Linked DNA regions of Homo sapiens. The protein of the gene in region 2 purifies or fractionates together with the protein of the main gene of each other region. This does not show direct contact. Each region holds a gene or a part of one and is shown on either strand. Other genes may lie near its edges.

Evidence for each region.
Region 1: the proteins of TRIM13 (region 2) and NPLOC4 purify together in Homo sapiens (affinity purification with mass spectrometry; 2 studies listed by BioGRID and IntAct, with this or other methods). This does not show direct contact.
Region 3: the proteins of TRIM13 (region 2) and ELOVL2 purify together in Homo sapiens (affinity purification with mass spectrometry; 2 studies listed by BioGRID and IntAct, with this or other methods). This does not show direct contact.

What each region holds. Positions count from the first base shown.
Region 1 is NC_000017.11:81,557,053-81,564,160, reverse strand, and holds part of NPLOC4 (nuclear protein localization protein 4 homolog), read left to right. Parts: exon of another isoform or gene 1-181; coding exon of another isoform or gene 182-240; exon of another isoform or gene 241-3,278; intron 3,279-4,744; coding exon 4,745-4,902; 3' UTR 4,903-7,108. UniProt on the Homo sapiens protein: The ternary complex containing UFD1, VCP and NPLOC4 binds ubiquitinated proteins and is necessary for the export of misfolded proteins from the ER to the cytoplasm, where they are degraded by the proteasome.
Region 2 is NC_000013.11:50,000,006-50,007,113, forward strand, and holds part of TRIM13 (E3 ubiquitin-protein ligase TRIM13), read left to right. Parts: intron 1-989; exon of another isoform or gene 990-1,100; coding exon of another isoform or gene 1,101-1,103; intron 1,104-7,108. UniProt on the Homo sapiens protein: Endoplasmic reticulum (ER) membrane anchored E3 ligase involved in the retrotranslocation and turnover of membrane and secretory proteins from the ER through a set of processes named ER-associated degradation (ERAD).
Region 3 is NC_000006.12:11,041,249-11,048,689, reverse strand, and holds the start of ELOVL2 (very long chain fatty acid elongase 2), read left to right. Parts: upstream 1-4,384; 5' UTR 4,385-4,459; coding exon 4,460-4,462; intron 4,463-4,864; exon of another isoform or gene 4,865-4,932; intron 4,933-7,441.

The DNA.
Region 1 (7,108 bases), on a different chromosome or scaffold from region 2:
CTACACATAGTACCTAATAGTTTTTCAGCCCGCCCTGCTCTTTGTGTGTGTGTGTGTGTGTGTGTGTGTGTGTGTGTTTTGAGCTGGAGCCTCACCCTGTCTCCCAGGCTGGAGTGCAGTGGCGCAATCTTAGCTCACTGCAAACTCTGCCTCCTGGGTTGAAGCAATTCCCCTCCCTCAGCCTCCCGAGTAGCTGGGATTACAGATGTGTACCACCACACCTGGCGTTGCCATCTTTATGTACGTGAGTACCCATGTTTAGCTCCCACTTATAAATGAAAACATGTAGTATTTGGTTTGCTGTTCCTGCATTAGTTTGCTTAGAATAATGGCCTTCAACTGCATCCATGTTGCTGCAAAGGACATGATTTCATTCCTTTTTATGGCTGCAAAATTTTTTAATATTTTTGTATCAATGAGGTCTCACTGTGTTGCCCAGACTGGTCTCAAACTTTGGCCTCAAGCATTCCTTGCACCTCAGCCTCACAAAGTCCTGAGATTATACCTGGGAGCCACTGCACCCAGCCCTTTGATGCAGTTCTAACAATGACACCAGTCTTTTTTTTTTTTTTCTTTTTTGTTTCCCTTTTAGAGACAGGGTTTCACTCTGTTGCCTAGGCTGGAGTGCAGTGGAGTGATCATAGCTCACTACAGCCTTCAATTCCTGAGCTCAAGCGATCCTCCTGCATCAGCTTTCGGAGTACCTAGGAGTATAAACATGAGCCACTACACCCAACTAATGTTTTTGGTTGGTGTTTTTTTTTTTTCTTTAAGAGATAGGGTTGGCCGGGCCCGGTGGCTGGCTCACACCTGTAATCCCAGCACTTTGGGAGGCTGAGGCAGGTGGATCACAACGTCAAGGGATTGAGACCATCCTGGCCAACATGGTGAAACCCCATTTCTGTTAAAACTACAAAAATTAGCTGGGCATGGTGGCGAGCGCCTGTAATCCCAGCTACTCAGGAGGCTGAGGCAGGAGAATCACTTGACCCAGGAAGCGTAGGTTGTAGTGAGCTGAGATCGTGCCACTGTACTCCAGCCTGGGCGACAGAGCAAGACTCTGTCTCAAAAAAAAAAAAAAGATGTGGTCTTGCCATGTTGCCCAGGCTGGTCTCAAACTCCTAGGCTCAAGTGATCTTCCTGCCTTGGTTCCCAAAGTGCTGAGATTACAGCTGTGAGCCACTGCACCTGACCTTTTTTTTTTCCCCCCTCCTTTTTTTTTTGAGACAGGTTCTCACTCTGTCACCCAGGCTGAAGTGCAGTGGCATTTGAGGTCAGTCTCACCTTGACCTCCCCAGGCTCAAACAATCCTCCCGCCTCAGCCTCCTGAGCAGCTGGGACTACAAGCATGTGCCACCATCCCTGGCTGATTTTTTAAATTTGTTGTAGAGATGAGGTCTCACTATGTTGCCCAGGCTGGTCTTGAACTCTTGGGCCCAAGCGATCCTCCCGCCTCAGTGCTGAGATTGCAGTGGTAAGCCACCATGTCCAGCCAACTCTTTAATAATAGGCAGTTCTGACTGGTGTAAGTTCTGACTGGTATCTCACTGTGGTTTTAATTTGCATCTCTGATGATTAGTGATGTTGGGCATTTTTTCATGGGTTTTTTGTTTGTTTGTTTTGAGACAAAGTCTTGTTCTGTTGCCCAGGCTGGAGTGCAGTAGTGTGATCTCAGCTCACTGCAGCCTCCACCTCCCGGGTTCAAGCCATTGTCCAGCCTCTGCCTCCTAAGTAGCTGGAATTACAGGTGGCTGCCACCACACCCAGCTAATTTTTTTAGTTTTAGTAGAGACAGGGTTTCTCCATGTTGGCCAGGCTGGTCTCAAACTCCTGACCTCAAGTGATCCACCCACCTCGGCTTCCCAAAGTGCTGGGATTATAGGTGTGAGCCACCGCGCCCGGCCCTCATGGGTTGTTTTGTTTTGTTTTGAGACGGAATCTCACCCTGTCACCCAGGCTGCAGTGCAATCTCATGATCTCCACTTACTGCAACCTCCACGTCCTGGGTTCAAGTGATACTCCTGCCTCAGCCTCCCGAGTAGCTGGGACTACAGGCGTGCACCCACGCCTGGCTAATTTTTATATTTTTAGTAGAGATGGGGTTTCACCATGTTGGTCAGGCTGGTCTGGAACTCCTGACCTCAGGTGATCCACCTGCCTCGGTCTCCCAAAGTGCTGGGATTACAGACGTGTATACACAAGACACAAAGATCAGCTCAGGATGGGTCATAGGCCTAATGGTAAAAGGTAAAACTATGAAGCAGGCTGGGCATGATGTCTCATAGCTATAATCCTAACACTCTAGGAGGCCAAAGCTGGAGGACACTGTAGCCCAGAAGTGTGAGACCAGCCCACACAGCATAGTGAAGCCCCGTCTGTACAAAAAAACAATATTAAAAAAAAAAGAATTAGCTGGGCATGGTGAGTGGTCCACGCCTATAATCCCAGCTTCTGGGGAGGCTGAAATGGGAGGATCCCATGAGTCAGGAGGTCGAGGTCACAGTGAGCCATGATTATACCACTCCAGCCTGAATGACAGAGCAATACCCTGTCTTAAAAAAATAAAAACTGTAAAACAGTTATTAAGTTGAATCTCTTCAGGGCCTTGGGGTACGCAAAGATTCTTTTAGGCAGGATGCAGGACCTTGGGGTAGAACACAGAAAAACACTGGCATAAAAATAGGTAAATTGATAAATAAATTTATCTAAACAAAACACTTGTGCTCATCACAGGGCACTGTTAGAAACATGAAAAGGCACCAATGGGGGACGCAGTATTAGCAGTACATACACACAACATGACTTCTATCTGAAACTTAAAAATAACTCTGCCTGTTGTTAATCAAACAGAAAGCAGAAGAAGAAGCTGGGCGGAGGGTGAAACGTTTCACAAAAGGAAATGCAGGTCGGGCATGGTAGCTCACGCCTGTAATCCCAGCACTTTGGGAGGCCGAGGCGGTGGATCATTTGAGGTCAGGAGTTCGAGACAGCCAGGCCAACATGGTGAAAACCCATCTCTACTAAAAATAAAAAAAATTAGCCAGGTGTGGTGGCACGTGCCTGTAATCCTAGCTACTTGGGAGGCTGAGGTAGGAGAATCGCTTGAACCCAGGAGGCAGAGGTTGCAGCGAGCCGAGATTGCGCCATTGCACTCCAGCCTCGGCAACAACAAAAAAAAGGAGATGCAGGAACAGTCACTATCATTAGTCATCAGGGAAATGCAAATTAAAACATGAGAAGCCGTTACACATTCATCAGTGTGGCTGAAATGAAAAAAACGCGACAATGTCAAGTGTGAGTGAAGATGTGAAGCAGCTGGGACTCTCGTACCTTGCGAGTGGGAGGCAAAACCGTGCCACCCTCGCGAGAACTGTGTCTCAGGGTCTTAGAAAGTTCAGCACACAATTCATTACCCTGTGGGCCGGCAGATTCATTCCTAGGTAGGTTTTTTGTTGTTGTTGTTTGTTTGTTTGTTTGTTTTGAGATCTCGGCTTACTGCAACCTCGGTTCACTGCAACCTCCGCCTCCCAGGTTCACGCCATTCTCCTTCCTCAGCCTTCCTAGTAGCTGGGATTACAGGTGCGCACCACCACCCCCAGGTAATTTTTGCATTTTTAGTAGAGACGGGGTTTCACCATGTTAGCCAGGATGGTCTCCATCTCTTGAATTTGTGATCTGCCCACCTCAGCCTCCCAAAGTGCTGGGATTACAGGCATGAGCCACCGCGCCCGGCCTGTTGTTTGTTTTTGAGATGGAGTCTCGCTGTGTCGCCCAGGCTGGAGTGAAGAGGCAGGGTCTCGGCTCACTGCAGGCTTCCCCTCCCGGGTTCATGGGATTCTCCTTCCTCAGCCTCCTGAGTAGCCGGAACGGCAGGTGTCTACCACCACGCCTGGCTAATTATTTTTAGTAGAGACCGGGTTTCGCCATGTTGGCCAGGCTGGTCTCAAACTCCTGACTTCAAGTGATCCACCCGCCTCGGCCTCCCAAAGTGCTGGGATTACAGGCGTGACCCACTGCACCCAGCCTCACTCTTTGTTTTTATCCAAGAGAAATAAAAACACAGGTCCACAAAGAAATTGTAGAAGAATGATCCTGGCAACTTTGTTCATATTAGCTCAAAACTGGAGGCTGGGCATGGTGGCTCATACCTATAATCCCAGCACTTTGGGAGGCCAAGGTGGGTGGATCACCTGAGGTCAGGAGTTCGAGACCAGCCTGGCCAACATGGTGAAACCCTAGTTCTACCAAAAAATAGATAAAATTAGCCAGGCATTGTGGTTCATGCCTGTAATCCCAGCTACTTGGGAGGCTGAGGCAGGAAAACCGCTTGAACCCGGGAGGTGGAGGTTGCAGTGAGCCGAGATCGTGCCACTGCACTCCAGCCTGGGTGACAGAGCAAGACCCTACCTCAGAAAAAAAAAAAAAAAAAAAAAGCTGGAAACAACCCAAATGCACATCCCCCGGGGAGTTACGTTATTCACAAGGAGAAGCACCCTCTGCAACAAAAAGGAACCAGCAAGCACAGGCTCCCTGTTACTCCCTGTGGTGCAGGAGGCATTTTTCTGAGGGCATTAAGCACTTCAAAGTGTGCCTGTGGTGGGAGTGCTGTGTGGGCAGGACCAGCACTGGGTGGGATGTTGGGGGCGGGGAGCTCTCAGCTGCCTGCCCCTGCCCCCATGCCCACACTCTGGCAGTCTCTGGTGGGCCAGAAATGATGAGTGCTCATTTCTCTTCCACCCTGCAGGCACAGTTGGCGGGCAGCTCCCAGGTCTCCATGAGTACGGCGCCGTCGGGGGCTCCACACACACGGCCACTGCAGCCATGTGGGCCTGTCAGCACTGCACGTTCATGAACCAGCCAGGCACAGGCCACTGCGAGATGTGCAGCCTCCCCAGGACCTAGGGCGCCTGCCCTCTGCTGGCTAGGACCGGGCCCAGCCCAGCCCTTCCTGAAGCCAGAAGCGTTGCTGAGTGTGTTCCCTGTAACTGCCCCATAGTGGGCAGCCCTGGAGGAACAAGGGGCTGGCTGTCCTGGGCTCCCTGACCCACTGAAGCTTCTCAGCACGTTCCTCCCTGGAGAGCGGGCGCCACGGCTGGTATTCTGCAGGCTGAATGCAGTCTCCAGACTGGAAACGCAGAGCGGCTCCTCACGCCTAATCCTGTTGACAAGTCCCCCGCCGTGTTGGAAAGACCTCTCGCCTCTACGTGGCACCTGGAATTGGGGCGCACAGGGAGGGGCCGATGCTGCCACCACCCAGCCTTCTCTTTATTTTCAGTGCTTTTTGTTTGGCCTCCCTGCCCCCATGTTTTTCTGGCTGGGAGCTCTTGGTTACCCCCTTGTCTGACTGCTTGGTGGCAGGCACCCTGCCTGTGAGGGCCACTTTCCTCTTCTAGTAGCTGTTGTCTGGTGGGGACGCAGTGGCCCTGGACACGGCTCCCCTCTGCAGGTCTGCAGGTCGGTTTGCTGCCTGCCCTCCTCCTCTCACCCGATGTCCAGGTGGGATTTTAAAGTCTGCATTGGTTATAATAACAGTTATCAGTAATTCCTGCCCAGAAGACTTTTATTTATTTTTTTTTAAGATAAAAACTGCACAAAAGGGGAGTGAGAGAGACTAGTTTCCACATCCTTCCCTCCTTTAGTGAAGCCCCCGAGGTTGTGTCCAGGGTGATGAGTGTGGACGGGGGCACCAGTCAGTTCTCCCTTGAAGTAAACCTCAGTGCCTGAGACTTTTCTACCAAGCCACACAGCTGCAGCAACTGCAGATACTGCGGGCTGAGCAGGAGCAGTGGTGGCGCCTGCCCTGAGGCTGCCCTGCGATGGCCTGGGTGGGAGAGCTGGGTCACCGGTGCCGATGCTCTGGCCCTCCCCAATACGCTGCTTCGTCCCACTGCACCGCCTGGCTGAGGGCGTTAGGGGCTGTGCCTCTTGTGAGGGCCATTTGGGACCTCCCTGGGGCACTGCACAATTGATAGTGTACCAATAGAGGGAGACTGGGCGATCTGGAACAGCACGTGGTGGGGTCCTGCTTGTGTGCTCTGCGTTCCTCTGTGGCGTGGCCAGGCCGGGGCATGGCTCTTACCCGGGGAGTGGTGGGCATCTCGATGCTTCTTTGCCTTAATGATGGCCACATCTGGGCTGCTCTGCACCCACGGGAGAGGCTGGCCCAGCTGCAGACTGCTTAGGGACTTCTGTGTCCATCCTGGGGGGTAAGCCCACGTGACCCACATTCTTGGCACTATGAACAGAGAACATTTGCCTGTTGGCTTCTGAAGTGGTCAGGGCCATGGCTGACACCTCCAGGTCCGCCTGGCATGGGACACCAAGTGGAAGGCCCAAGCAGCTCATCTGCTCTTGGGACCAGGGGCCAGTTGGGTTGGGTCTGGTCACGGCAGAGCTATTGTGGAGGGTCAGGAAGGGTGGAGAGGAGCTGGGTTGAAGCGGACTGCTGCGGATGCAACTCCCAGCTTGCCCACCGCGGGCTGTCTGCTCTCCCTCCTAGCAGCTGTCACACTGAAGTTTTGTCCTCTGCTGTCTCCTCTGGTCCTGAGATGAGCTGTGAGCCTAGGTGGCCAAGGCTTCCTGCATTGCTTCCCTGTGAGTCCAAGGCCTTCCCCCACCACTGGGCAGAGGCTGGACAGCACGGACTTCTAGAGAGAGCCGCGTTGCCAGTTCCTCTCCCACTCGCTCGTCCTTATCCACCACGCTATTATAGTTTCCGTTGTCCTCCACCAGCATTTCCCTTACTCTGAAGTTCCGGCATTCACATCATTCATGTTTTCTTTTGTCTTTTAGCTAAAGGAAAAGCATTGGCGATTTGTCTGATTCTGGTTTTGAGTTACTCTTTGTTCAGTAATGCACTTTATTTTATTGTCCAAAGAGAGTCAGAGCTAAGCATACAGGCTTGGGGGTGAGCCCTGCTGTGAGAGTTCAGGCCCTGGGAGGCTCAGCCACCTCCTCTTGTGGGAAGGAGGTCTCAGCCCCACCTCGCATCTTCACCTGCCCTTGGTGTGGACACACCCTCTCATGCTACCAGCACCATAATCCAGTGGGGGTGACTGGGTGCACACCTGCCCAGGTGAACACAGCGGCTGCCAGTCTCCTGGTCCCG
Region 2 (7,108 bases):
TGTTTAGATGATTTCTAAGATGCTTTTAAGCCCAGTATTTCTATTCCTACCCCATAACTTTTATTACCATTTATTGCCTATACATATATATTGGTAAGACACAGATGCAGACTAATGTTAACTGCCTTAAACTTTTATATTTTAAACTCGGGTAGGTATGGTAACAAGTGTGTCTTATTGTTTTTTACTAAGTCCTATAAAACTATGGTTTTATTTAAGGTTAGGAACTGCATAGAGAGGTGGACCACTCTAATACATCATTGGTTAGAGTTCATAAAGTGATATAAACCCTTTCTAGAGAGAAACCTAGTCATCTTTTCAACAGCCTTAAAAATGTCCTTACTGTTTGACCCAGAAGTACATTTAAAGGAATTGTCTAAGGAAGTAATTAGAGCTGTGGAGCAAGACTTTTCTCTATAAGGTGTTTACCTAAATGTTACAATACCAAAAAAACACAACAACCCACAAACAAAACAACACAGCAACAAGAACAAACCCATAAATGAGCAATAAGAAAGCATATCCACAACATGGACTGTCATGTTTTTCTAGAACATATCATGATGGGGGAAAGGCATGTAATAAAATAAGGGGATAGGATACAAAATTGTATTATGCTACCAGTTCTGTTAAAATGTGTGCACATGCACGGACACATGGGATTGGAATAAAGACACCAAAATAATAGTAGTGGTGATTTCTTGCTGATGTGATTATGGGTGGCTTTTTCTCTCTATTTTCTGAATTTTCTATAATAAAAACTAATTTTATAATTTAAGAAGACACAAAAGCTAGTTGCATGGATAACTTCGGTTTCAGTATGGTGTCAATATTTTATGGTTTTAATTGTGGTAAGAACATTTAACATGAGACCTATCCTCTACACAGATTTCTAAGTGTACAGTACAGTGGTGTTAACTATAGACATGAGCAGATCTCTGAAACTTACTTTTATGTGTCTTTTATAAACTATTTATCATACCTTCTAGAATAACAGCACCTGGCCGGGTGCAGTGGCTCAGGCCTGTAATCGCAGCACTTTGGGAGGCTGAGGTGGGCGGATCACCTGAGGTCAGGAGCTCGAGACCAGCCTGGCCAAAATGGTAAAACCCTGTCTCTACTAAAAATACAAAAAATTAGCTGGGCATGGTGGCAAGTGCCTGTAATACCAGCTACTTGGGAGGCTAAGGCAGGAGAATCACTTGAACCCAGGAGGCGGAGGTTCCAGTGAGCCAAGATCACACCATTGCACTCCAGCCTGGGTGACAAGAGCAAAACTCTGTCCCAAAAAAAAAAAAAAAAAAGGCAGGAAAGAGTCCAGGCTAAACTATGGTATGGAGAAGAGAATGAAGGAAAAGGAAAAAGTTTTTCTTAGTGCTCTGAACTAGCGAGGTAATGAGTGACCTGGTTTATATTTCTGAGAATTTCACCTTAGTCTGACAACCCTTTGTGAACTTTCTGAGTAAGTGAACTTACCAAGCTAGTGAACATTCTGTACTAGCTCTATTTTGCCTTGTCAGGATCTCTGCTAGAAATATCTTGGAAATTTTAACTACTGTTTATTCTAGGATAATGCCAGAAAAGGTTGGTTACTTACTGTCTTATATGGACACATAGGTAACTTTTATATTGTTTGCAAGAGCCACATAACAATTATTTTAGATACTATATGTAATATATTAATTTTCATTTTTAGAGGTATTGAAATCTGATATTTCTTACTTTGTCCTGTTTTGATCATATATATGCCAGAGGTGCTATGTGTAATACATTAATTTTCATTTTTAGAGATTATATCTGAAATCTGATCTCTGTATCTTACTTTGTCCTGTTTTGATCATATAAGTCACCGGGACAGTCTCTAAAAGAATGAAGAGTAATAACACATTGATACAGAGTATTTAAAATAAAAACTTTGTAAATACTTTTCATATACCTTTTAAAATAGCTATACAAATGAGGAGAGAAACTAGTATGTATAAGTGGTTTGTCAGAGGTTACAGACTGAGAGCCAGACAAGTATGTCAGTCTCCTCACAGGTCTGGATTCAGAGACTTCCAGTAATACATTAAAAAAAAAAATTTATGAAAGATGAAACCATAGGCTGGGCATGATGGCTTATGCTTGTAATCCCAGCACTTTGGGAGGCCAAGGCAGGAAGATACTTGTGGCCAGGAGTTTGAGTCCAGCCTGGCCAACATGGCGAAACCCCGTCTCTATTAAAAACATAAAAATGAGCCTGACGTGGTGGCAGGCACCTGTAATCTCAGCTACTTGGGAGGATGAGGCAGGAGAATTGCTTGAACCCAGGAAGAGGAGGCTGCAGTGAGACGAGATCGCACCATTGCACTCCAGCCTGGGTGACAGAGCAAGACTGTCTCAAAAAAACAAAAACAAAAACAAACCATACTACAGCAGATTAAACTTCTTATGAGGCTTATATTTAGCTAATGTTTTCAAAGTTTTACTTTCTAAACTCAATATGGTTTTTTAATAATTGGCTCTTTAGTTTTTCCACCCATTTTATTGTGAAAATGTTCAAACAGAGAAAACTCAAGAAGAATATTAAAGTATTCTTACATCCTCTACCTAGATTTTAATAGTTGTTAATTAGACCCTTACTTAGTTTCAAGAAAACATTTATTAATGGATCTCTCTTTTTTTTTTTTCTTTTTGAGATGGAGTCTCACTCTGTCATCTAGGCTGGAGTGCAGTGGTGCGATCTTGACTCACTGCAACCTCTGCCGCCTGGGTTCAAGTGATTTTCCTGCCTCAGCCTCCCGAGTAGCTGGGATTACAGGTGTCTGCCACTGCTCCCGGCTAATTTTTGTATTTTTAGTAGAGACAGGGTTTCACCATCTTGGCCAGGCTGATCTTGAACTCCTGACCTCATGATCCACCTGGCTCAGCCTTCCAAAGTGCTGGGATTACATGCATGAGCCAATGCACCTGGCCTAATGGATCTCATACTACAGTATAGTAAGGTGCAGTGGCTCATGCCTGTAGTCCCAGCTACTCTGGAGGCTGAGATGGGAGAATATAGTACACTATTTGAAAATAAGATTAACTAGTGTGCTGAGAGGAAATGATTTTTTTTAATGAGCCATTTTATTATAGGAATTATTTCAAAGTAACATTTGTGGCTGTCTCAGTTCAGTAAAGCTTAGCATAATTTAATGTCTATGAAGTGAGTTTCAATGTTTGCTGTCTAGCCACCTGATAGATACTTAGGTACTGTTTTGAAATTCTTGCCTTCAAAGATGCCTCAAAACAGGATGGAAATTTGAGTTAAATCCTTAAGATAAAAGCGTGATATATTTATTGGCTTTTCTTTTTGTTCCCTAATGGGAAATGAAAAAAAACAAAAAACATGGGTAATATTTTGAACAACTTTATATTGCTAACAGCCAGTGGAATTTAAAACCTTAGTAGGAAAGTTTCTTTTACTAATAGGTTTTATAAGGAGAAAATGAACTTTTGTTTCAGAGTGAATGAATGAGTACTTTCTGCAGTATAATCATTTTGGGTTGATCTCTTAAAAGAATTCTAGAAGGAAGAAGTCCAATACATATATATAAACTCTATTATGACACGTTTACTTTGTAAGTATTGGCTTTTCCATTTTTATTATTTTAGTGGTTGTGTTATGGTTCTCATTTATAGAAGCTGTTGTTGCCAGATACTAATTGAGGTAGGATTCATAAAGCACTTTTTGTAATCCTTCTTCTTTGTGGATAGCTTGACAATTTGTTCAAAAAAATAAACTCATAGTGGTGGTATGCAACTTTGTTAAAAATAAAACTGTAAATCAAAAAGTGAATTTCATTGTATGTAAATTTAAAAGTATGTTAGAAAACATCAATATGGCAGGAGAACAAGTTTGACTTTTTTCCGCAACTAGTGTCTACTACCACCTTTCTGGATACTTTAAAAAGTTGTCAGCTTTTAAAATTGTTGGTATAAAACATTTGGGAAGTTTTTAATTGGTATTTGTGCTTCAAAATTTAAGACTTTTCTAAGTATTCAGAAATATTCAAAGGAAGAGATGAATTTTGGAAAACTTGTTTGCCTTTATGTGCTTAATCTGACTTTAAGTTGAAATTTGAACAGTGAATAATAATTTTGTTTACATAAAGTTTTTTGACTTCTATATTAGGAAAAAAACTAGCTTGAGGCCAAGTGCAGTGGCTCTTGCCTGTATAATCAGCACTTTGGGAGGCTGAGTCCCGACTGCTTGAGCTCAGGAGTTTGAGACCAGCCTGGGCAACATGCTGAAACATCATCTATACAAAAAAAGTACAAAAATTAACTGGGAATGGTAGCATGTACCTGTAGTACCTTACAGCTACTCATGAGGCTGAGGTGGGAGGATCACCTGAGCCTGGGGAGGTCAAAGCTACAGTGAGCTGTGTTAGGGTCACTGCATTCCAGCCTGGGCAACAGAGTGATACTCCCTCAAAAAAAACAACAAAACAGACTGGGCACACTGGCTCACGCCTGTAATCCCAGCACTTTAGGAGGCTGAGGCAGGTGAATCATTTGAGGTGAGGAGTTCAAGACCAGCCCGGCCAACATAATGAAACCCTGTCTCTACTAAAAACACAAAAATTAGCCAGGTGGTAGTGGTGCATGCCTGTAATCCGAGCTACACGGGAGGCTGACGCAAGAGAATTGCTTGAGCCTAGGAGGCAGAGGTTGCTGGTGGGGAGGTTGCCAGTGAGCCAAGATGGCGCCACTGCACTTCAGTCTGGGTGACAGCCCGAGACCCTGTCTTAAAAAAAAAAAAAGGGCCAGGTGCGGTGGCTCACGCCTGTAATCCCAACACTTAGGGAGGCCAAGGAGGGCGGATTACCTGAGGTCAGGAGTTTGAGACCAGCCTGACCAACATGGTGAAACCCTGTCTCTACTAAAAATACAAAAATTAGCCGGGTGTGGTGGCGGGCACCTGTAATCCCAGCTACTCAGGAGGCTGAGGCAGGAGAATCGCTTGAACCCAGGAGGCAGAGGTTGCAGTGAGCCGAGATGGTGCCATTGCACTCCAGCCTGGGTAACAAGAGCGAGACTCCCTCTCAAAAGAAAAAAAAACAACCAGAAACCCCGAAAAAGAGGTGGAGGGGATGTATCCTTTTTTGTTCATGTCAAAGGAGTAAGCTGGGTTGATTACTTCAGATTTTGTGTTAGCCATACTTTAAGATTTTGTAAGTTATTTTGCTGTGAAGAGTACCTTTTATTTATGATATTAAAGGCTTTAACTTAAATTATCCTTCAAAACTTTGGAGGCAACAAAGATGTCTACCATGGTTTCTTGGATCAGGTATTAGTCACTTGTGGAAGTGGTCACATAGTTTTGTCTTAGAGAAAGTTTTGATTATAAAGAGAAGGCATAGGCAGGGCATGGTGGCTCACAACTATAATCCCAGAACTTTGGGAGGCCGAGGCGGGTGGATCACCTGAGGTCAGGAGTTCGAGATCAGCCTGGCCAACATGGCGAAACCCTGTCTCTACTAAAAATACAAAAATTAGCCTGGCATGGTTGTAGGCGCGTGTAATCCCAGCTACTCGGGGAGACTAAGGCAGGAGAATCACTTGAACCCAGGAGGCGGAGGTTGCAGTGAGTTGTGATTACACCACTGCACTCCAGCATGGGCAACAGTGCAAGACTCCATCTCTAAAAAAAAAAGAGAGAAGGCATAAAACTAAAGGAAGAAAGGAAGAAGAGAAAAGGAAATATTTAGTTTTTTTTTTTTTTTTGTGATGGAGTTTCACTCTTGTGCGATCATGGCTCACGGCAACCTCTGGCCTCACGGGTTCAAGCGATTCTCCTGCCTCTGCCTCCTGAGTAGCTGGGATTACAGGCATGCGCCACCACGCCTGGCTAATTTTGTATTTTTAGTAGAGACGGGGTTTCTCCATGTGGGCCAGGCTGGTCTCGAACTCCCGACCTCATCTGCCCACCTCGGCGGCCTCCCAAAGTGCTGGGATTACAGGCGTAAACCACCGCGCTTGGCCAGAAATATGTAGATTTTAAAGTGAATGAAAATAAGAATCTTTAAATTATCAACCAAAATTTGTAAGTTAAGTCACTAAAAATGAAATTAGAGGATCTATTGTAATTTTGATGCAATTTTTTTGAAGATACTTTCCAAATAGTATTTTTTCCCCTCTGGTTCATTTTAAGAGCTGTATGTTGATCATGACCTTGGGATGACTGTTTATTATTTCTAAGTTTTCCTGTGTGTGACATTTTCCTTTTCACTTTTGATCACATTTGTTTGCCTGAAAATTCTTCTTGGCCCCTGTCGTTGTATCCTCAATTTTCTTCATAGTTTCTCTTTGCCTTTGGTGCCCTTTTTCTCCTCCTCATCCCACCCAATCACTTGGTATATTCTTTGTTTTCTTCTTATTTAATATGCTTGGATAGTATTCTCTGGAAGTATTAACATTGCAAGGATGAGTAAATTAGGTTTCTTTTATTGAGTGTTGCCCTTACCACTTTCCTGTTTCTATTGCCTTCTCAAAAATCTGGCCTTTGTGTAGAATTCTTAGGCAAAAGATGATAGTAATGGAAGTGAAAAGTGTGGAGCAGGACTGGGGTTGGCAGATCATCAAAAGTTTGACTTCATTGTTCTGAAAGTTTGTGTGTCTTACAGCTGTGTGGTAATCTCTTTCAGAAGACAAACTAAGTTGAGTCTTTATAGCCATTCTCTTTCCAATGCTTTTCAGAGGTTATATGATTTGTCATATCACAAAGGATTTTTCAGAAAAATCAGCTAATTACACCTTTTTTTGCAATATGACACTAAATTTGAGACAGAATAATCTTTGCTTTAGTTCTCCCTATGTTATGTATTATAAATACATGTATCTTACAATCTACTATAAAACCATAAACTGGCTGGGCGTGGTGGCTCACACCTGTAATCCCAGCACTCTGGGAGGCTGAGGTGGGCGGATCACCCGAGGTCAGGAGGTTGAGACCAGCCTGGGCAACATGGTGAAACCCTGTCTCCAGCAAAAAATACAAAAGTTAGCTGGGCATGGTGGTGGGCGCCTGTAGTTCCCAGCTACTCAGGAGGCTGAGGCAGAGGAACCGCTTGAACCCGGGAGG
Region 3 (7,441 bases), on a different chromosome or scaffold from region 2:
AATACAAACTTTATTTACAAAAGCAGGCAACTGGCTGGATTTGTCCTGCCACTGTAGTTTGCCATCCTCTGCTCTAGAATGTTATACTAGAATATAGTACTCAGCATAATATTTTCAAATGAATTAACATAAACTTTATTTTAAACCTGGATTGATACAAGGTCATGATTGTCTCCTTGTTACTACATCCAATCAAATGACCAATATATACATATATTGCTTTGTCATAAATCCTTAGTCCTAACATATCGAGTGAAAGCTGCACTAAATTTGATGGAGGGAACTCAGTTTTTTCAATGTGCCTTCACTTGGGCTTAATCTTTACTCTTTATCTTACTATTTTTCATTTCTAAACTCATATAGGTGCAGAGCTTTCTTAACACAAAGCAGAGCCCATGGCCAAGGAAAGGACGTGATTTCCAGAGTCTGTTTCTACTACTACCCTAAAAGTACAAATACTTTGAAGAAATGTAGTAAACTGATTTAAAGTCATAATACATTGTAAGTGAGTATTTTTCTCAAGATAAAACACAAAGATGCTAGGTATATCAAAAGAAGGGATGCTTCAGAAGAGAACCACACTAAAAGGAGATTAAACTCCCCCCAAAACAAAGCTTGCCTACTTCATAATTTTGATGAGGGCTGGCAGACTAGCACTGCAGAGGCAGTAGAGACAATGAGAATACTCACCCAGGATTCAGGAGATCCAGGCTTTAGCACTGTCATCTATTAATCGGTCTTCTCTAACTCCTCTGAGACACACTTTCTGAACCTATAAAATCTACGATATGTGACAGAGGGAGAGAAAGAGCATCAGTCAGATCTCTATTTTTAGGTTTAAGATTCTTAGATTATGCTAATCATCACTTTATATAGCACCACATCCATGTAAGTACCTAACACACAATTAGTCTATGTTATTGTACACATGCTCAATATGGGCTTGCCGTACAGCTAAGAAACAGAGTCCAGCTTTTGTGTAATCCATACAAGAGAACAACGAAAGTAAATATTATAAAATCATGTAAGTGATGGCATGTTAAATTTTCCATTAAGTGGGAATTCATGTTATACCCAGTTAAGACCCTCTCCCAGTTATATCTGGTTAAGATATGTTTCCAGTCCTGTGTTTATACAGGTAGAACCACTTCCTTTTTTAAAAAAATTAATTAATTTATTTATTTTTGAGATGGAGTCTTGCCCTGTCACCCAGGCTGGAGTGCAATGGCGCTATCTCGGCTCACTGCAAGCTCCGCCTCCTGGGTTCAAACAATTCTCTTGCCTCAGCCTCCCAAGTAGCTGGGATTACAGGTGCCCGCCACCACGCCCAGCTAATTTTCATATTTTTAGTAGAGACGGGGTTTCACCATGTTGGCCAGGCTGGCCTCAAACTCCTGACCTTGTGATCCACCTGCCTCGGCCTCCCAAAGTGCTGGGATTACAGGCATAAGCCACCGCACCTGGCCACCACTTCCTTTTTCTATTTAATAAAATATTGGTGGGGAAAAAGACCCTCTGGCATTTGCCGTCTCATTTGTTCCTTTGTTGTAGTGATAAGGAAAGCCATAAAATAATATTTTAAGAAACAGATAAGATATAGATGACTTTTTAGATCTCCTTCTGGCCTTATGGGTTGATGTGTATTTTTAGAGAATAAAGGTAAAATAATGATTATCAGGCTAAATGGTAATGTGGAAGTATAGGGATAATTCAAAGTTTAAGAATTCCTTCCCCATGTTTACCTGGTGTGCTTTGCAAGGTTTAGATGACATCAATGATACAATTTTTGCAAGCAACAGCCGCAGGGTTCTTAGAGGTCGGTTGTCACTTAAAATTGTTTTTTCCCTTCATGTTGTTAGAAAAATAGACTAAAGCTTTCCCTGAATGGATAATGGAATTTAGTTTCTCAAAATATCATCCATGGACTGCCTGGCTGCACCAGTATCATTTGTGGTGCTTGTTCAAAATTCATATTCCTTAGAAATGGAGGTTTCACCACTTCAAGACCCATAGAGAGTCCATTATACTTTATGCAGGGTCAGAGATGCCTCTGGAATGAAGTAGATACTCCCGCAATGTGAAACTGATAGCAAATATTAAACCCAAAGCAAAACCAAAAAAAAATTCATATTCTTGGTCTGTACCTGAGGTCATCTTGATGGATCTCAAGTATCCCTGTATAGTATTAAACCCTCTGGTGCTACTTATACACAATAATGTCAAAAAATCACTATCTAGATTAAGAATTCACATTATACTGCATCAGATTAGTGATACAGTGAAATTCAGGTCCAGAGTTTTTATCATTCAATATCCAAAAGACGTGGAAGCTACTTTTATAGCTTTCAAATATAACACGTATCAAATAGAAGAAAGAACACAGGTAAAACAGAAAGAATAAAATCATTCCAAGGAAAAACAATATTTGGGGACTATTCGTGTGAATTTCCTTCAAGTCTCTCAATATCATAATATAGATCATCACAGGTTCTAAAAACTCCTAACAGCAGGGACTGTGTTTTTCTTCATCACTGTAACCCTAGCTGTTACCAAAACGCCTAGCACATAGTAGGCACTGAAATCTTTGCTGAGTGAACAAAGTAAGTGAAGCTGAAATCAAATTGTATCTTTGATTTGGGCCACACTTTTTTATAAAAATATGCCAGCATTAAATAGAATATCACTTTCTGATTCTCAAATGCATCAAATTGATAACAAATCAATAACTAGTACTTTTGTACCAGATATTTTTCTAGAGTTTTACCCATATTAATTTAACCCTAACAGCTACATGTAATGTTAAGTGCTATTTTATCCCAAATTCGTAAATCAGGAAACTGGAGCATAGACAGTTTAGGTAACCAACCCAATACCACACACCCAGTATGTGGCAGAGCTGACTCCTGAGATTTTTATCAGACTAGGTTAACCTGTTTATGGTCATAAAATCATCCGCCTTTTATAAACAAATATATGCCTAATATTTACCACTTCAGCTACAGAAATTCTATATTAGGAAGAAAAACTCTCTATTAGGAAACTATATATTAGGTGATTGTATGACAGTTAAGATTTAGCCCCGGTACCTACAGTTACTCACTCTGCTACTGCACAAAACTCTGCAAGGGCTCCCACACCGCCCCAGGTGTGGGATGCTAAGTGTATGGTGCAGGTACCTCCGTGCACAGCCACACGGGCTGCTCTCAACCCCAATAAACATGTTTACCACATGAGCCTCACATGTGGTAAACATTTTTTTTTTTTTTTTTTTTTTTTGAGACAGGGTCTCATTCTGTCGCCCAGGCTGGAGTGCAGTGGCGTGATCTCGGCTCACTGCAGCCTCCACCTCCAGGGCTCAAGCCATCCTTCACCTCAGCCTCCCGAGTGGCTGGGATCACAGGCGCAGGCCACCACACCCAGCTAATTTTTGTATTTTTTATTTAAGAGGCGGGGTTTCGCCATGTTGCCCAGGCTGGTCCCGAACTCCTGACCTCAAGTGATTCGCCTGCCTCAGCCTCCCAAAGTGCTGGGATTACAGGAGGGAACCACCACGCCCGCCAACTTCCCATGCTTGAGGGAGAAATGGAAGAAAGTTCATGTAATACTCAGGCAAGTCCAATTTTTTCGACGTCTTTCACTTGGGCCACACACACAACTAAAGTAACTAGAAGCGCAGGCTCTAGGAGGCCACCGTTCTGTTCACAGTGAAGAGGGTGCGCTCACCGTTGGTCGTGTCCGCTGGAAGCCCCGCGTCAGGCCGGGAGCGGGACAGAGACTCTTGCTCAGGGCCGTTATCCGAACTGATCCGCTTCCCACCGCACCCCCAGAGAAACCCACCCAACCCCCTAAACCTAAGAAACCCAGACTGCGCAAACCTGCAGGAACAGAGCCATTTCCCCCTAATGTGTGCTTCAAACCCACCGAAGCCCAACTGTAAGCAAGACCAGCGTGCCCGCCCTGCACGATACTGCTTCTCCCCGCAGCAGCGGCTGCCGATCTGGGCAGCGGGTGGGTATTCCTGGGGCTCCGTGGACGTTGAGCCGCCGCGCGAAACCGGCGCCGGCTGGACCTGCAAATCGCCGCCCGGCCGGCAGGGGACGCCGCGGACGCGAGGGCGAGGTCGGTCGCCCAGGAGGGGGCGCGCGAGGCCGCAGGGGCGGGGGGCGCCGCCTCACTTGCCCTGCGCCCCTCCCCCGCGCGCCCTCCTGGCGCGGCGGCCGGCGAGGCCCCTGTGGGAGAGGGGGCGGGGACGAAACGGCCCCGAGGCTCGGAGCGCCGCGCGGCGGCGGCGCGAGCCCGAGGGGGCGGGGAGGCGCGGGCGGGTGTGCGCGCGCCGGGCGTGGGTGTGGGTGGGGGTAACCGGCGCGGGCGCCGAGATAGCGCCGGGCAGAGGGACCCGGCTACCCTGGACAGCGCATCGCCGCCCGCCCGGGTCGCCGCGCCACAGCCGCTGCGGATCATGGTGAGTGGGGCCGCGCGCCGCCACCGACACCGCCGCGCTTTCTTTCTCTCCTGGACCCACGCACCGGGCGGGAAAGGGCCGAGCGGGCGCCGGCGCGGGCGCTGCGGGTTCGCCGCTGGAACCCGCTACCCTCGGAGGGGCCGGGTCCGCGCGGGCCTGGGGAGCGGGAGCTGAGCGTTTGGGCCGGGGGCGCGCGGGTCGGCCCGAGGCCCGCGGGTCTCGGGAACTTTGTCTCGGTCCCCTCTCCCCGGTCCCGCCCCGGCACCTCGAGGCGCCCGCTCGCGCCCAGTCCCCTGTTGCATGCACGGGGCCGGGCGCCCGGGATGCCCGAGGAAGCCGCCCCTCCTTCGCGGCGGCCATTCCCGCGCGCAGCCCACCCTCCGACCCTCCGGACCCCCGAACCTGCTCTCGCCACCGCCCGCCGACGCCTGGAGCGGAGAACGGCGTTTCCCGCGCGCGGCACACACCCTGCCTCGGGAGTTCTGGGGTTCGGGCCCTAACGGTCAAGCTCTTGCCCCTCTCCTCCCTTCACCGCGCCTGCACCCCGGGGGTGTGTCTGTGCACTCGTGGGTGCCTCCTGGGTTTGCAGATTGGCTTGGGAAGCGGCTGGGTTTCTATCAGTGTCTGGGCTCGGAGGGGCTTCTGGTGTGTTCTTTCCGACAACTCCTCTCTCTGCCCGATTTCCCAGGCCAGTCCTCCACTCTGGATTAGTAACGCTTCTTTCTCCTCGGCAGTAAGCTGTGTGTGTGTGTGTGTGTGTTCACCCGTGTCCGATGAACTGCCTGACAGTAAGCTGTGTGTGTGTGTGTGTGTGTGTGTGTGTTCACCCGTGTCCGATGAACTGCCTGACAGTTTTAGTAGCAGAGCCTGGTTCTTTGGTTACAAAGGGAGAACATCTGTTGTGCCATCCTCAAAGGACTGGTCTTTAGGCAAAATGTGAAATCCGCGTTTGTCTTCAGTGGTCCATATTCAGTGTTTGCCTCACCCCCTTCCCGTAGGGTTTTCTCTCCACTTCAGGACTTGTTAAAATAAGCGCACTTCCTTTCTCTTCCCCACTCCATCTGATTTTGCTCTGGCTACCCTTTTAGGCACGTACCATCTGCCTGATTATGTGTGACCACTTAATCTTAAAATTCCAACCTTTCCTACCCCGCCCACCACAGTGTATATTCCCCTTGCCTGCTTCATTTGTCTTCTCTTGAGCATGTATTAGTTAGCGTACTGCATATTTTGTTTCTTTAGCTTGTTTCTTGAACGTCTCCTCTACCAGAATATAGGTTTCAGGAAGACACAGATTTTTGTCATTTCGTTCATTGCTTGCTAGATTTCTAGTACCTACAGCAGTGCCTGGCGCACAGTAGGTACTTGATAACTCTTTTGAATTAACCCAATAAAGCAAGCTGCTTTATGTTAATGCACAGGTGGGGAGTAACTGCAAAGATTATGCAGTTGACATTTGTAATGATGAGAGTCTCAAGTGAAGTTTGGGAGGAGGGAGATACTCCCGACAGGAGGGACCCGATTTTGGCAGCCTTCAATGACGAGTCTAGGCGGCTATCTCTTATGCCTTGTCTGTCGCTTCATGCTCTTTGCACCTTGGCATCAGAGTGGACAAAGCATTTTTAGGACCAACTGGCTCTCCTTTTGGGCTCTGAAGCTTTGTCCTAAAGTATAGGTAGGAATTGTAGTGAGTAAGGGAATAAGTCCAAGGAAATCTCTTTAGCTGAATAGGAAAGTCATGGGAATGTTAACCTAAAAGAGCTAAAATCAAGGGCAAGCTCTTGAAAGCTTTATCCTGCCCAAGTGTGATGCTTCCTGTTTAGATAAGTATTTCTCAGAAACTGTGGGTCTTCAGAGGAATTTTTTTTTAATACCCAAATCCAAATTGTATTACTTTTTTCTTCTTTCTTTTTTTGTGGCAGGGTCTCACTCTGTCACCCAGGCTGGCATGCAGTGATGCAATCTTGGCTCACTGCAACCTCCACCTCCTGGGCTCAAGTGATTCTCGTGCCTCAGCCTCCTGAGTAGCTGGGATTACAGGCGCACGTCACCACACCAGGCCAATCTGTGTATTTTTGGTAGAGACAGAGTTTCACCATGTTGTCCAGTTTGGTCTCTAACTCCTGACCTCAAGTGATCAACACCCACCTCGGCTTCCCAAAGTGCTGGAATTACAAGGCATGAGCCACCATGCCCGGCTGAAATCGTATTACTTTAAAAAAAAAATGGGCAGGGAGTAGGAAAGTTAGGGGGTTGAATTTATAAATAACTTAGTGGGTCAGTTCAGAGAGACATCCTTTTCAATACATGTCCAATATGAACTGTCTTGTAAGATATCTCTGCTAGTTAGTCTTATTATTCCAAAATAAATATTTTTTCTTTCAAATTTCCTTTTGTTTTTCTATAATGTGGATTTATGGCATTGGTTTTTTAAAAATTAGTCTGGAGAAATGTATTAATTGGAAACAAATTGTTTAATAAAATTTACATAAGTTTTTGAAAATTATGTAATTATAGCTATGACTATGTAAGTTCAGCAGTTCTGTGGTTACCATCTTTCCCAGGTAGGTAGTAGAAATTAAAGGTAAAAAGGAAAGAAATATAAGTTTGTCTTTGAAATTAAAACCAATGAACCAACCAAAGATGAATGAAAGATACCTTATTGACTTAAGTTTCTATTTGTAGGATATTTTACTGTTAGGATTCCTAGGATTCCAAAGTATCCAGCCTTTTTCTCTTTCGATTCTTCGAACGTATAGCATTTTCAAGGAGTAAAAAATCAATTTTTAAAGTATCCAGTTGGGTAAGCCTAATTTTTGGTTCTTCAACAAGGGTTCCATTTAATCTAGTTTCCTTCAAAACGTTTTAGTCAGTTTGGGAGGTTCAGGTGCTTTCATGTTCCGAAAGAGAATGTTGAAAATGTGTCAAGTAGATATTATGTATCTAGTTATGTTCAGAAAACAGGGCCCTGCTATTCAG